2 linked regions of the Homo sapiens genome follow. The protein of the gene in region 2 interacts with the protein of the main gene of each other region in a pairwise test. Each region holds a gene or a part of one and is shown on either strand. Other genes may lie near its edges.

Region 1 (7,024 bases), on a different chromosome or scaffold from region 2:
CAGCTCTCCCTCCTGTTTACAGAGAGCCTCCAACCCAGGCCCCCTGAGGGGCGACCCCATGGTGAAGTTGGACACCTCCTTCTGGCCCACGTGGGGCTGTCCATAATTCCCTGTGAAAGGGGTGTAGTCAGTTTTAAGGTCACCCTGAGTGATCCCCTTGTCAAAAGGGCAGGCTGGACTCCTGGCAAAGTGCTGCTGAGATGTACTGGGCAGGCCAGACAGCTCCACACTTTTCGTTATGCTGAACAGAGACCTTAAGCAGGAGGGCGAGGCCACGCTCCTGGATCTCTCCAGGCAGGCGGCCCCAGCTGGGGCCGTGGGGGTAGGGGCAGGGCTGGGCTGTTTCCGGTCCATCTCGACATCCCCCGCTCTGTCCTTGGCGTCAGGCTCATCTCCAGACAGGCAGAGCGTGATGCTCTCTTCCTCATTCTCTTCACTGGGCGGCTCACTTTTAATCTGCCCCCTGGCAAGCCCCGGCTTGAGGCTGTTGCTAGAGTTATCTTCCCGGAATGTGCTTGCAAAACCTGAGGTACTGTGTGATGATGCATTATAGACATTCTTGGTACATGCAAGCTGGTATTTCTTGTATCTGGGGTACTGCGTTAACGCGTCCTTTTCTGAGCTCTCCTTGGTGTCTGTGGGCACGTCAGGCTCGGGCAGCAGGGCTTCTTCCTTCTCTGCTACGGGGATGGCGGCGGCCTCAAAGCTGATGGGCTCTGGAAGCATCTGGTCCCTGGGGCAAGCCATCTTGGCCGTCTCTGAATCCATCGTCTCCTCCTCTTCATCCTCCTCCTCTCCTGCAGAGTTCTCGCAGTCCTCGTGTGGGCGCTGGCACGCAGCATCCTTCCGGCACACAAACAGGCCATCCTCACTGTTCAGGAGCTGGGTCTGCAGGAAGCTGAAGCAGGAGTCCTCCAGGTTGTGCATGCGCAGGAACTCAGCACAGCGGATGACCTCGCGGATGTTTTCTCTGCTGAGTAACAGCTTGGCAGTGTAGGCAAACTGTAACAGCGGCCCAAAGCCCCTGGCTGTGACCTGCAAAACAAACAGGGAAATCGCCAACATTACCATCAGCACTGCTATTGTCCCGAATCCCTCAACTGAAGCAAGATAACCAGACAGTGCTAATGTCCCAGAATAAAGACTGCAAAGGGGCAGTTAATCTTGTAGTACTGGGTCAGCAATGATTCTGCTTCCAATAATTAGTGCCTGTCTCGTGCATGCCACTGTTGTACTCCATCACAGCACAGGCAGAATTGAAAATCACCAGGGTCAAGTGGCTAAACAAGATGACAACGGGTTCAGTGTTTACACTAATGAAATATCCTGGCAAAAATGCACGGTGACAATGGGGAGCCTATTAATTTCCCTCCCAATCAGTCCTGTTGAGAGCCATTCTACACGAGGGGGGAGTGTTGTGACACTTCTTGCAGCTTGCTGGAGCCCAAGAGAGCCTTAACGTTTTCTTGTCAACCACAAAAATGGCAATGTGACCCTGCAAAAAACTAACTCCAGGGAGTTGTAAAAATAGGTTTTCCTCACTTACAATGTTAAAAGAGACATTAAAACAACTCCTGTTTTGCTCATCCATCACAGTTTCTACTTGAGACTTTCGGTCATCATGTCTACCTGATCTTATGATGATGATGATCTCATTATCTCACCAGAGATGACAACAATCAAAAGTGGTGTGCTCAAGATGAAATCAACCCCTGGCCCATAATGAATGGGGGTTGCAGAGTTAAACAAACCGGCTCTCATTTAAATGGTTGAAGCTGCTGAGTGGCACAGGGTATGGGCTATTCCTTCCCTAATTATTAGCAGCAGCTTTGCCATGCAGCTGTCTTTTTTTCCTGGTAAATCTTCAGGGGCTAAGCCTACTGTCATTTGCTGCTTATCTGTTATATTTTACAAAGATTGAAAGTGTGCTATTTATGCACAGCTTGCATATGCACACAAACACGTGTGTGCCCACACGCATGCCTGCTCACACACAATGACTTAGACAATTAAGAATATGTTGCCTAAGGCCAATTGTTTTTTCAGATGGAAATGGATTAAACTTGCTGGTGTTCATCAGGGTAAGCTTCCTTACCCTGCACATAAAACCACACATCCTCTAGGTTCTTGCAAGCACTGCTGACCACACAGGAAGGTGACGCATGTCTACAAATCCTGTACAAATCAAATGAAAGCAGCAATCATGGGGTCCTTGCTAGAGGCTATGGTAGCAGTGATACAAAATTTTAGCGGGGGGAGTGAGTGCACAGCAAGGTGAACTGGTAAACTTTGTAGCTGACTTCTGTGTGTATTAAACTCACCGCAGCATACAGAGCCAAAATTCTTGCAAGGACCTGTAATTGATGTTCAAGATTCAACCTGGACATTCACTCCTTTGGGAGTGCTCTCCAGTCCTCTTAGAGAGAATGAATGACATTGTCCTCTCAGCTCTCATAGCCAGATGAGGAGACGTGCTGGATTCTCCAGGGCAGCACTGATTTCATATCATTGCATTCTTTCCAGTAACGGAAATTTCTTAGACATGTAACTGAACGGGATTTTAATTGTTAATCTTTTTAAAGTACTCAAGTAAGATTCCACATTAAATTTTTCTGTCAGATGATGAGTCCAGAGATATTTGGTTAAAAAAACAAAACAAAAAGCCATGACTGCTAGACCCACATTATAAATTCTATATGGGCAATCAGTGCCATCTCCCTTTTATTATACCTAATTGTGCCTGTTTCTACCATAAGACAGCAAGCTCCTTCAGATCAGGAATGGTTTTGTCTGTCTTTGTAACCTTGCATCTAATCTAACCTGGGGTCTCTCACATGGTAAATACTTGTTAAAAGCTTGTATGTTACCAAATATGTCATGAGTCAAACTGTGTCCTAACATACTACTACTGTGTATGCAAGGTGACAACACAGTATGTTTAGAGAGTGTTGTCTCAAGTTACTTTTGGAGCAAGGCATCATGTAAACCAACTAACTGAACCGATCAACTGATCAAAGGCAGGCAGGCAAGGGTCTTTGTTTGCCCCGTGTCACAGTACCAGTATTAAAAAGGAGGTCTGACCGACACTTTTGTATCCTGCTAAGCTGACATGGTAATAGGTTCAGCAAATGTAGTACTGACAATACATCTGTTTTATGTCCTTTTCTTCCAAGAATCTTTAAAAGAAAGTAAAAAAGCAAGGAAATGTGTATTTATAGGTAACTGAAGAAGATGACAAGAATGTCACATGACCTATTCCTTTACTGCCACATGGCTCCACCACAAAGAAAGAAATGGTGAAATCAATGCAGAGTTGACCCCTGCCCTCGTAATGATCCTATGCTCCTCTGTAATGTGCCAGTTGCCAAAAGGGTGGATAAGACACTTCTTGAGTTTTGGCAAAGGTGCTCACTATATGGGAAATGTAGGAAACTAATTTCAATGCTATTTATACTGTTCACACAGTTTTTCTTTTTTTTTTTATTATTATTATGCTTTAAGTTTTAGGGTACATGTGCATAATGTGCAGGTTACATATGTACACATGTGTCATGCTGGTGTGCTGCACCCATTAACTAGTCATTTAGCATTAGGTATATCTCCTAATGCTATCCCTCCCCCCTCCCCCCACCCCACAACAGTCCCCAGAGTGTTCACACAGTTTTTCTCATACTCCCATCCTTATCACCATTTTTTTTTTTTTTGATGCTGTAGGTCTAAGTAAGTCTTACCACTATCTTCCACTGTGGCCTCTTGTAAAGAAAATTTCTAAAGAAGCCAGGGACATCCATGGGGATCTGTAGATCAGGAAGCAGTACTGGGAGTCACCCTCTGCCACATGGCTGCAAGGAGCTGGAGAAAGCATCTCCGCTCAGGGACGAGCTGATGCTTAAATGTATGAATTGGACCAAGGAGGTGAATGAGCAAAGTCTCCACATCACAAATCAATGGCACTCCTTAGATCACTGAGGCTTAGGAAACTTCCTGAGCTTGAAATGATCGTCATATGGTCATGAAAGAGTCATAGATAAAAAATCTGGTTTGTAAACTGTCACTTAAGCCCAAGGGCAGAGGAAATGGTGTCCTCACCATGAAAGTTCAAGAGCTCATAACTAGCTCTTCTCCCATTCTGGTTTCAGTCCTGCTTTGTCATATTTAAGTCTGCAAGATTTTGCTCAGCTTCTGTGTGTGAGGCTTTGTTTGGTGAGCCAGAATGACCATTTACCAAGTATCTCCTAGTGCCCAGCACTGTGCTCTTGTAACACCCTGCAAGGCAGGCATGACTGCCCTTATTCTGTAGATAAGGAAACTATGAAGCAGGGAGGTGAAGGAGTTTATCCATGGTCAGTGCTAGTCAGTGGAGAGCTAGGATTCCAAACCAAGTCCAGTCTGTTTCTTCTTCTGTGCTAGTGGTGTGAGGGAAGGATATGTGTAGGACTCAGGCCTGTGCTCAAGAGATCTAAGATTTAGCTTTGTAGAAGAGGTACAAATGATGAAAAGTTAACTAAGTAACAATGTAAGCAAGTCAACAATGGAAAAGCCATTGCAAGATTATATGAGTAGTTGTCAACTGAGAAATCCAGACAAGTTCAGGATAGGAGACTACTGAGGCTGAGGGGACTAGCAAGGGGGCCCCTTGAACACTTTTATCAGCACGCCTTGAGTGTCTGCTCTAGGTCAAGGGTTGCTTTGATACGATGGCTACTTTCGGAACTGTCACAAGGGTCCCTCCCAGGAACCCATCTCTGGTCTACTTTCGGCAGTGGTAATCGCTCCAGATACACAAAACAGAAAGCAAGTGCCCATCACACCTGCCAGCAAGTGTTACAACAGGCAGAGGCTTTCTAAATACTGGCTTAGCCTCCATCTTGAGAAGGTGGCACTGTCTACCCATTTTTAGGGACCATTTAAATTCATTCATTATACTCAGAAGGCAAATATTCAGGTACCAGTGAAAAGCTGTATGTTCATGAAACTGTGACCACAAGTCTGCATTGTTACTTACTTTTTGTTCTTAACAAATAAGGCTCTAATAATGGGAAAAAATAAGAGGGGGGTGGGAGGTGGAGAATTACACGCAAAACTAACAACTCATAAAATGGTATTTTAAAAAGTAATGATCATAAAGTTAAAATGGAATGAAGTGGCTATAAATAGAAGAATAGTTCCAACTCACTGATGTTAATGGAGTTGCATCCCTCTGCTCTAAGCAGACCCATCTAGACTAAAATCCACTGGTCAGCAGTGGCCTCAAGGTATGAGAAACAAATGCAAAATATGGTGTTAGGGACAACTTGGGATAACAGTCTTGCATTTTGAATGAAAATATTTTGAATGCCTCATTTCGAAGAACATTTTTTCATTGCACTTAAATATGTAACTACCTGGTCTCATACTGTGCAATACTCATTCTGATACAGATGAGATGGGATCACACATTGGGGCCAGAATACAGTGTGCCATGTGGGGGCGAGACCTCGGAGAAGGCAGAAAGTTAACCCTCCAACCTCCCACAGACTGCTTCCTAGGAGGTGATGACCTCAGCTAGCAGTTGGCACATAGTTGGTTCAACCCTGAAAGAAATAAGGCCAGGGTACCGTGTCCGATGGTGCAAGTCAACATGCTGACAATGTGTTGAAATTTGACCCACTGTAACTATGACCCTTAATCCTTCATTACATTGGATTCTAACATATCATCTCTCTGCTGAAAGGAAGATGGGCTGATGAAAACTCAATTTGTAGAGAAAGTTTGGGCACTGTTTGCAAAGCTGGGGAGCTCAGTGTTTTGGGGAGCTCAGTGTTTTGGGGAGCTCAGTGTTTCATGAGACATCCATTTTGCTGCAGGACAGAGTTTATGAGGATACTTACAACAGTTCCATCTCTGGACTATGATAGGGATGAGGCAGTCAGCCTTCAGGCATTTATTGAAAATAGGGTTTGAGGATTTTTGAGACTTGGAACATCATTCTCTATATAAGCTACATGACTAAGGTGTCTCCAGTTGGTTTTGGCAGTATATACACATGGCTGTAGCATTGAGCCCATCTGCAGAAGGCTGATCAGATGAATCCGGAGGACAGGTGACTGCTCCCTGGGAGAGGGCTGGCACGCTTCTCAAGGTCCCTTAATCACAACTTCACAAAAAAGGGAAACTTACATCTTCAGCAACACCATGTACACTTTCCTGATGAAGCTGAATCTCTTACACACTGCAGGAACCAGGAAGATAAAGGTAATGAACCCCTGCCCAAGGGCTTTTTAAAACGCTAGACCACTGACAACCCCTCTGGGTTGTATTTGCACAGCAAGGCACTTGTCAAATGATGAAAGCAATGCTGGTGACAATTAACTCTCCCTTCCCACTCTCTTACTGCACTGCAACCCACTCTGCAGGATGAAAACTGACTTAGTGATCAGGCATCACTCCTCATCTTAATTTTCTATAATTCATATCCACATTATCACATTCTTCTTCCAAAGCAGCATGCTAGACATTTAGAAAGTATTTGTCAAATTAATTCACCTTACTATTTCAACAAAGCTTCTGGTTATTTTAGTATTAATTTTTATTTTATCTATTTTTACAGACAGGGTCTCCCTATGTTGCCCAGGCTTGTCTTGAACTCCTGGGCTCAAGGGATCCTCCTGCCTCAGCCTCCCAAAGTACTAGAATTACAGGTGTAAGCCACCACATCTGGCCTCGTATTAATTTTATTTATTTATTTACTGACAGGGTCTCATACTGGTTGTCCAGGCTGGAGTGCAGTGGCATGATCTTGCCACTTACTGCAGCCTCAACCTTTGGGGCTCAGGTGATTCTCCCAACTCAGCCTCTTGAATAGCTGGGACTATCGGCATATACCACTATGCCCAGCTAATTTTTGTATTTTTAGTAGAGACGGGGTTTCACTATGTTGCCCAGGTGGTCTCAAACTCCTGGACTCAAGCAATCCGTCTATTTTGACCTCCCAAAGTATTGGGATTACAAGTGTTAGCCATTGTGCCTGGGCAATTTTATTATG
Region 2 (7,827 bases):
TGGTGAAAAACTGAAAGCTTTTCTCCCTAAGATCAGAAACAAGTCAAGGATGTCCAATCTCACCGCATCTAATTAACATTTTGCTAGAAATTCCATCCAGAGCAATTAGTCAAGAAAAAGAATGAAAGGCAAGCAGATTAGAAAAAAGTAAATCTCTGTTCTCAGATATCATGATCTTGTATGCAGAAATTCCTAAAGATACACACACACACACGGAGATTAGCACTAATGAACACACTCAGCAAGGCTGCAGGATACAAGATCTATATGCAAAAATTAATTCTATGTACATATACCAGCAATGAACTATCCAAAAACGAAATTAAGAAAGCAATTCCACCAAGAAGAGCTTTCAATGGAGGAAAATTAGTCTTTTTAACAAGTAGTGTTGGAACAATTAGACATCAAAATGCAACAGAATGAAGTTGGCTCTTAACTCACCCCATATACAAGAATTAACTCAAAATGGATCACAGATGTAAATTTAAGAGTTAAAACTAGAAAACTCTCAGAAGGAAACAAGGGTATGATCTTCATGATCTTCTAGATTTGACACCAAAGCATGAACAACAACAAAAAACAGATAAATTGTATTTTATCAAATTCTGAAACTTCGGGACTTCAAAGGACACTATAAAGAAAGTTTAGGCCGGGTGAGGTGGCCCACGCCTGTAATCGCAGCACTGTGTGAGGCCGAGGTGGGTGTATCACTTGAGGTCAGGAGTTCCAAGACCAGCCTGACCTCTGCCTCCTGGGATTACAGGCATGAGCCATGGCGCCCCTCTTCATTTCATTACTTTTTTTTTTTTCTGAGATGAAGTCTCACTCTGGCACCCAGGCTGGAGTGCAGTGGGGCGATCTCAACTCACTGCAGCCTCCATCTCCCAGGTTCAAGCAATTCTCCTGCCTCAGCCTCCTGCATAGCTGGGACTACAGGCACGCAACACCATGCCCAGCTAATCTTTGTATTTTTAGTAGAGATGGGGTTTCACCATGTTGGCCAGGCTGGTCTCGAACTCCTGGCCTCAAGTGAGCCACCCACCTCAACCTCCCAAAGTGCTGGGATTACATGAATGAGCCACCAAGCCCAGCTGACCCTCTTCATTTCTATGGTACACTCTCCCTCCACTTATCCTGCCCCTTTTAAAGTTCAGCCCTCCCTGCTCTGCTCCCCTACCCTCATCTCTAAGGTGAACCCTCTTTCCACTGCTCCATCAATTTCTGAGGTCCACCCTCCTTGTTCCTGCTTCTCCTTGCTCCACTCCTGCGCTTCCACATTGAAGCTCAGCTCCCACTGCTCTGCCTCTCCCCCTCTCATTTCTAAAGTGGCCCTTGGCCAGGCGCAGTGGCTCAGGCCCACAATCCCATCATTTTGGGAGGCCGAGCCGGGAGGATTGCTTGAGGCCAGGAGTTCGAGACCAGCCTGGGCAACATAAGGAGACCCAATCTCTACAAAAATTTAAAAATTAGGTGGGCATGGTAGTGAGCACCTGTGGTTCCAGCTACTCGAGAGGCTGAGGTGGTAGGATCACTTGATTGAGCCTGAGAGCTTGAGGCCACAGTGAGCCGTGATCGTGCCACTACACTCCAACCCAGACAACAGTCCCTGACCTTATCTCAAAAATAACTAACTAGGCCGGGGGCGGTGGCTTATGCCTGTAATCCCAGGACTTTGGGAGGCCGAGAAGGGCGGATCACTTGAGACCAGGAGACCAGTCTGGGCAACATGGTGAAACCTCGCTCTACTAAAAAACAAAACAAAACAAAACAAAAAAACAAAAACCTAGACAGGTGTGGTGGCGCGTGCCTGTAGTCCCAGCTACTCTGTCGACTGAGGTGGGAGGATCGCTTGACCCCAGGGGGCGGAGGCTGCACTGAGCCAAGATGATGCCACTGCACACCTGCCTGAGAAACAGAGCAAGCACGTTTCACACACACACACACACCCCTAACTAAAGTAGCCCTTTTCTGTTTTGTCCTCCTTCCCCCATTTCTACAGTTTCCTTCTTCCGTGCTCTGATGCCCTTCTCCATTTCTAAAGTCAGCTTCCATCCTCTCTACTCAGCTCTGCTCACTCCCTATCTGGCTTGGAAAGTCTATTCCCTCCCCTCCTCCCCCATTTCTAAGATGGATAATAGCAGAGGAACTGGTCCAAGTAAAATCCACTTTTTCTGGGTTTGGTGCGAATGGAGGAGGTTAGGGGCCTTGATAAAGGAGTTCTTTTTTCTAAGGTTCCACTCTCCGTGTAGAGGTCTCAGGTTAGAGACTAGAGAGCGCCAGCAAAGAAAGGCTATCCAGAGCGAATAACCACCAGCCAACAAGCAAATAAATGGACCAACCACCCCTTCGAATAACCACCAGCCAACAAAGCAGATACACCAACCCACCAACAACTCCTAGCACTACCACGCCGGGATCCCTAGTAAAATAGCCTAAGGCTTGCTCCTCCGGGCCCTGGAATCTAGTGATTTATGACATCCGCTTGGACTGAGAAGAGCACTTGGCTCCATGTGTTTGAAGGAGGCCAGTAGTTAGGTATCAATTCTTAGGAGAGTAAAATACACGTTAATAGCGGTCTATTTTCTCCGCCTGCCCCTTTCAGCAATCCTTAATCCCCACGCGCTTCTGGTCAGCCTCCCTCAGTTCCCCACCTGAAAGGAGAGGGCTGGAGGTGAGGAGAAAAAGAGGAGAGGAGGGATAGGGGCCAAGTGGTCCCAGGGTTCGTCAGGGTGGGGCAGGTGCGGAGATGCCCTGAAGGGGAAGCCTCTCCTCGAACTGGTGTGTTCCTCCCGACGCCACTTCTAGTAAGCGCTATGCCGAGGTCTTGCGCTCAAGACCAGTGAGCCCAAACTAGTGGAGACTGGGATCCGAGATCTACATACCTAGAGACATATCTAGGAAGTTAACCTTTTTCCGACTGGGATGATTTGGCGGCACTTTTTCAGAAAGCGTTAGCTTCCGAAACGAAGCCATCTTCCCTGCATCATGGCGCCACACACTCCGAGGTAGGGCGCGTGTACCACCCCCTCACCGCGCAGGAGGAGCAGAGTGGTGGACTAACCTGATCCTCCAATCATAGCCTCTCCCTTCGGTGTTGCTAAGCCCCAAGGGGTGGAGCTTGGCGTTACCCCTCACCAAGTCTCCTATCAGGAGCTTGGCTCGCTAGAAGAAAAAAAAAGGAAAGACCCGCCCATCTCCCACCCGATACCCCTTTCTAAAAATATTCTCTCCACCTAGAGCACTATGTAGTTGGCTACAAGTTTCTAGTGTATGTGGTGTTCCGGCCCTTGCCTTTCACAGTTCCTAGGACCCATTTCTCCTCTTTGCTGTTGACATTCATGGCGAATAAAACCTTATAATCTTGACTTAATGGGCTGATGCTCTGCTTCTCTCAAATTCCAAGAGGGAGCACAAATTTAACATCTAGGGAGGATTCACAGGTTTGCAATGCCACACGCTTTCTTTTCTGTCTTTCTTTTCGTTTTTGTTTTTTGTTTTTTGTTTTTTTGAGACACAGTATCTCTTTGTCACCCAGGCTGGCGTGAAGTGGCGCCAACTCCGTTCACTGCAACCTCCGCCTCTGGGGTTCAAGCGATTCTCCCACGTCAGCCTCCCAAGTAGCTGAGATTACAGGAGCGCGCCACCACGCCTGGCTAATTTTTGTGTTTTTAGTAGAGATAGGGTTTCACCATGTTGGCCAGGCTGGTCTCCTGGGCTCAAGTGATCTACCCGTCTGTGCTACCCTCATACCACAGCGCCCACACTTTCCCTCCCTCCCTCTGTCCCTCCCTTCCTTCTTTCCTTCCTTCCTTCCTCCCTCCCTCCCTTCCTCCCTCCCACCCTCTCTTTCTTCTTCCTAACTTCTTTCTTTCCATCTGCCTTGGCATCCCTCCCTCACCGCACCTGGTTATTTCTTTTCCTTCCTTCCTTTCTTCCTTTCTTTCTTTTCTTTCTCTTTCTTTTCTTTCTTTCTTTCTTTTTCTCTTTCTTTCTTTTCCCTTTCTTTCTTTTTTTCTTTCTTTCTCTCTCTCTTTCTTCCTTCCTTCCTCTCTTTCTTTTCCTTCCTTCCTTCCTCCCTCCCTCCCTCCCTTCCTTCCTTCTTCCTAACTTCTCTCTTTCCACCCGCCTCGGCCTTCCTCCCTCACCACACCCGGCTATTCCCTTCCCTTCCCTCCCCTCCCCTCCCCTCCCCTTCCCTTCCCTTCTCTCCCTTGCTTCCTTGCTTCCTTCCTTCCTTTTTTCCTTCCTTCCTTCCTTTCTTTTTCTTTCTTTTCTTTCTTTTCTTTTTTCTTTCTTTCCTCGATCTGTTGCCAAGGTTGGCATGCCTTAACCTCCCAGGCTCCTCTTGGGCTGTAGAGATGGGGATCTCACCATGTTGGCCAAGCTGATCTCAAACTCCTGGCCTCAAGCAATCCTCCCACCTTGGCCTCCCAAAGTGCTGGGATTACAGGCATGAGCCACCATACCCGGCCTGCCACATGCTGTTCAATGACCTTGAAGATGTGTCCATGACATTTCTTAAGAAAAATGTAATTGTTCTTGTTATCACCTAATACTGCTCAATCAAATGCTACTTTAAAATATTAGAGAAATCTTGTCACTGGCTCTTCAGTAGAAATAAAAATCAAATTAATACATTTTCAAAGGTAAAAATATGTTCAAGCTATTACAGAATCCACAACATAAATAAATGCCGGAAGAGATTTTGAAAAATGTAAATTATTTAACTATTTATTGTATTTAAGTAAATGCTTCGCACCTGGGACCTAAAGATTAATAAATAAATCTGTTTCTCCATGCATATACAATTGCCTGAAGACAATAAATGCATGCAAAATATTAATTTAGGTGCTGTAATTTAGTCTGTCAACAAATACTGAGCTCCTGCTGTGTTAGGTTCTGAGGATACAGGTATGTACAAAATGTATTTGGGATTCAAAGGAGAAAATTCACCCAAGGAATCAAGAAAAAATTATTTAAATCCTGAGAAATTAGGGAATAATTGTAGGGGTGGGAATGGTATTTCTTGGCAGAGGAAGCAGCACCACTAACACACTGTGGAAAGTTCTATTCATTCCATGTGGTGGGTACTGAGAGATGAGTCTAAAGAGATCAACAGATATTAGATCATGGAGTGACTTTTATAATATATTATGCTAATGGTTTGGGCCTTTTTTTCTGTCAGATTTATTTTTCTGTCAGGTATGAAGTGAGAATGAAAGAGGATCAAAGATAGAACCCCAAGAAAATTAAAAAGAACATTGAGTAGAAAATATCAGAGAGATATGGGTAGAACCAGGAAAGAGGTATTCATTTATTAAGGGAGAACTCCAGGAGGAACCGACGGGTCCATCTTGTCAAGGGTTGATAGAAAGTCAAATAAGCTAAGAACTGATTAATTCATTAAATTTAGTAATTATGAGATCCGGTTTTTACCTTCAGCAGAGTTCTAGCAGGCTATAAACTGATAAACAACTAATTTTTATTTAACAAACACATAAAGCATTTACTATCTGCCCGGCATTGTTCTGAGAGCTTTACAAATATTCAATAATTTAATCTTCACAATAACCCCATGAGAAATAATATTATCTCCTTTTACCAGCAAGGAAAAGAAGGCACAAAGACATTTAAAAAATTGCCCAAGGACACAGAGCTGGTAAATGTTGCAATTACTTCAAACCCATGCAGTTCAGCTCTAAAAATCACGCTTGTAACTACTACCTTTACACAAGGTAGTATAGGGTGGTTTTTTTTTAATTATACTTTAAGTTTTAGGGTACATGTGCACAACGTGCAACTTTGTTACATATGTATACATGTGCCATGTTGGTGTGCTACACCCATTAACTCGTCATTTACATTAGGTATATCTCCTAATGCTATCCCTCCCCCCTCCCCCCACCCCACAACAGGCCCCATAGTGTGATGTGCCCCTTCCTGTGTCCATGTGTTTTCATTGTTCAATTCCCACCTATGAGTGAGAACATGCAGTGTTTGGTTTTCTGTCCTTGCAATAGTTTGCTGAGAATGATGGTTTCCAGCTTCATCCATGTCCCTACAAAGGACATGAGGGTAGTTTTTTTTTAATGGAAGAGATTAAATTAAACATGCTTATAGGTCATGAGAAAGGAGCTAGCAAAGAGAGACACATTAGAAATAAAGAAAAGGGAGGCCGGCCCAGTGGCTAACACCTGTAATCCCAGCACTTTGGGAGGCCAAGACAGGCAGATCACTTGAGGTCAGGAATTCCAGACCAGCCTGGCCAACATGGTGAAACCCCAACTGTACCAAAAATACACAAATTAGCCGTGCATGGTGGTGTGCGCCTGTAATCCCAGCTGCTTGGGAAGCTGAGGCAGGAGAATTGCTTGAACACAGGAGGCAGAGATTGCAGTGAGCTGAGATTGCACCACCACACTCCAGCCTGGGCGACAGAGCCAGACTCTGTTTCAAATAAATAAATTAAATTAATAAATAAAAATAAACAAAAGGAAGTAAGGAAATAATCAATGAATTTCCTTTCTCCCTAGGTTTCAGAATTGAGCCATAGTAGAGATGGGACCAGGAGATAACTTTGAAAGACATCGTGCTTTGCTTGAAATTGCTTGTTATTTGATTAATTTGATCTTGCATAACTTTCACTTCTCTTAGTTGAACTTCTCTGCCTTCATTCAAATAGGTTCTCTCAAATTCGAAGAATGAGCACAAATCTAGCATCCAGGGACAGACTTGCAAAACCACGCAGAAACCAAAGTGAGCCTTTTAAAACATCAGTCTTGGCGTGGTGCTCATGCCTGTAATCTCAGCACTTTGAGAGGTTGAGGCGGGAGGATCCCTTGAGCCCTGGAGTTCGAGGTCAGCCAACAAAGTGACAACAATGTGAGACCCCGTCTCTACAAAAAATTAAAAAATTAGCCAGGCGTAGTGGTGCATACCTGTGGTCCCAGCTACTCAGGAGGCTGAGATGGGGGGATCGCTTGAGCCAGGGAGGCAGAGGCTGCAGTGAGCCATTATCTCACCACTGCAACTCCAATCTGAGAGACAGAGCAAGATCCTGTCTCAAACAAAACAAAACAAAACAGCAGGGACAGTGTGGAATTCTGGCAACAGCAGTGGCAACAGCAAAAGCCAGTTTCTTGAGGCAGCAATGGCAGTGTTGCAAATCACAGTATCTAGTGTGTGGCAGTGGTGGCCTCTTCAGATTCGTTTTGATGTGTGATTTTAGCTAATACTATAAATTTCTCACCTCTCTTGGTTCCTGCACTTTTTCCTGAGCTTGATTCTTTAGACGTCATGGCTATTCCTTGAGCTATGTAACATAACAGGCTTTCAATAAATTTCTTCTATGCTTAAAGCAGCTAGGATTTGTCACATTCAACTAAGAACTCTTTCTATTGGCATCAAGAGAAATATAAAGGAGACAATTCATTGCTTTTTGCTTCAGTTTTGGGCACCAGTTGTTACCGGACAAACTGCAGTGAAACCAAAGAAAATCAACCAGGTTTGTGAGGAGATTTAAATCATGTCATCTGAAGCATGGTTGAAGAAATTTTGCCCGTAGAACAGAAATCTCAGGGGACCATAATAACTGTCTTCAAATAATTTTATGGAAGAGGGAGTGAATTTATTATTCGGTCTGGCAGGAGAGGGCAGCATTATCCCAAGTTGACCCAAATTACAGGAAAACAGATTTCTGCACTATATAGAGACAAACTTTCTAATAATGAAAACTAAAACAATGGGACGAAACTACAACAGGAGAAGCTGCATTGAACTGACATACTTGACACTGTGAATATTAAAGCAGAAGCTAGATTACTGCCT

What was found. Proteins that work in one complex are often made in the same cells at the same time.
Region 1: the proteins of LUZP4 (region 2) and BACH2 interact in binary tests that used the Homo sapiens proteins (3 or more experiments, as listed by UniProt).

The regions. Positions count from the first base shown.
Region 1 is NC_000006.12:89,950,828-89,957,851, forward strand, and holds part of BACH2 (transcription regulator protein BACH2), read right to left. Parts: intron 1,036-7,024; coding exon 1-1,035. UniProt on the Homo sapiens protein: Transcriptional regulator that acts as a repressor or activator. Binds to Maf recognition elements (MARE). Plays an important role in coordinating transcription activation and repression by MAFK.
Region 2 is NC_000023.11:115,284,906-115,292,732, reverse strand, and holds the start of LUZP4 (leucine zipper protein 4), read right to left. Parts: upstream 3,019-7,827; 5' UTR 2,974-3,018; coding exon 2,883-2,973; intron 1-2,882. UniProt on the Homo sapiens protein: Export adapter involved in mRNA nuclear export in cancer cells. Binds and enhances the RNA-binding activity of the nuclear RNA export factor NXF1. Can restore mRNA export function in cells compromised by loss of mRNA export adapters.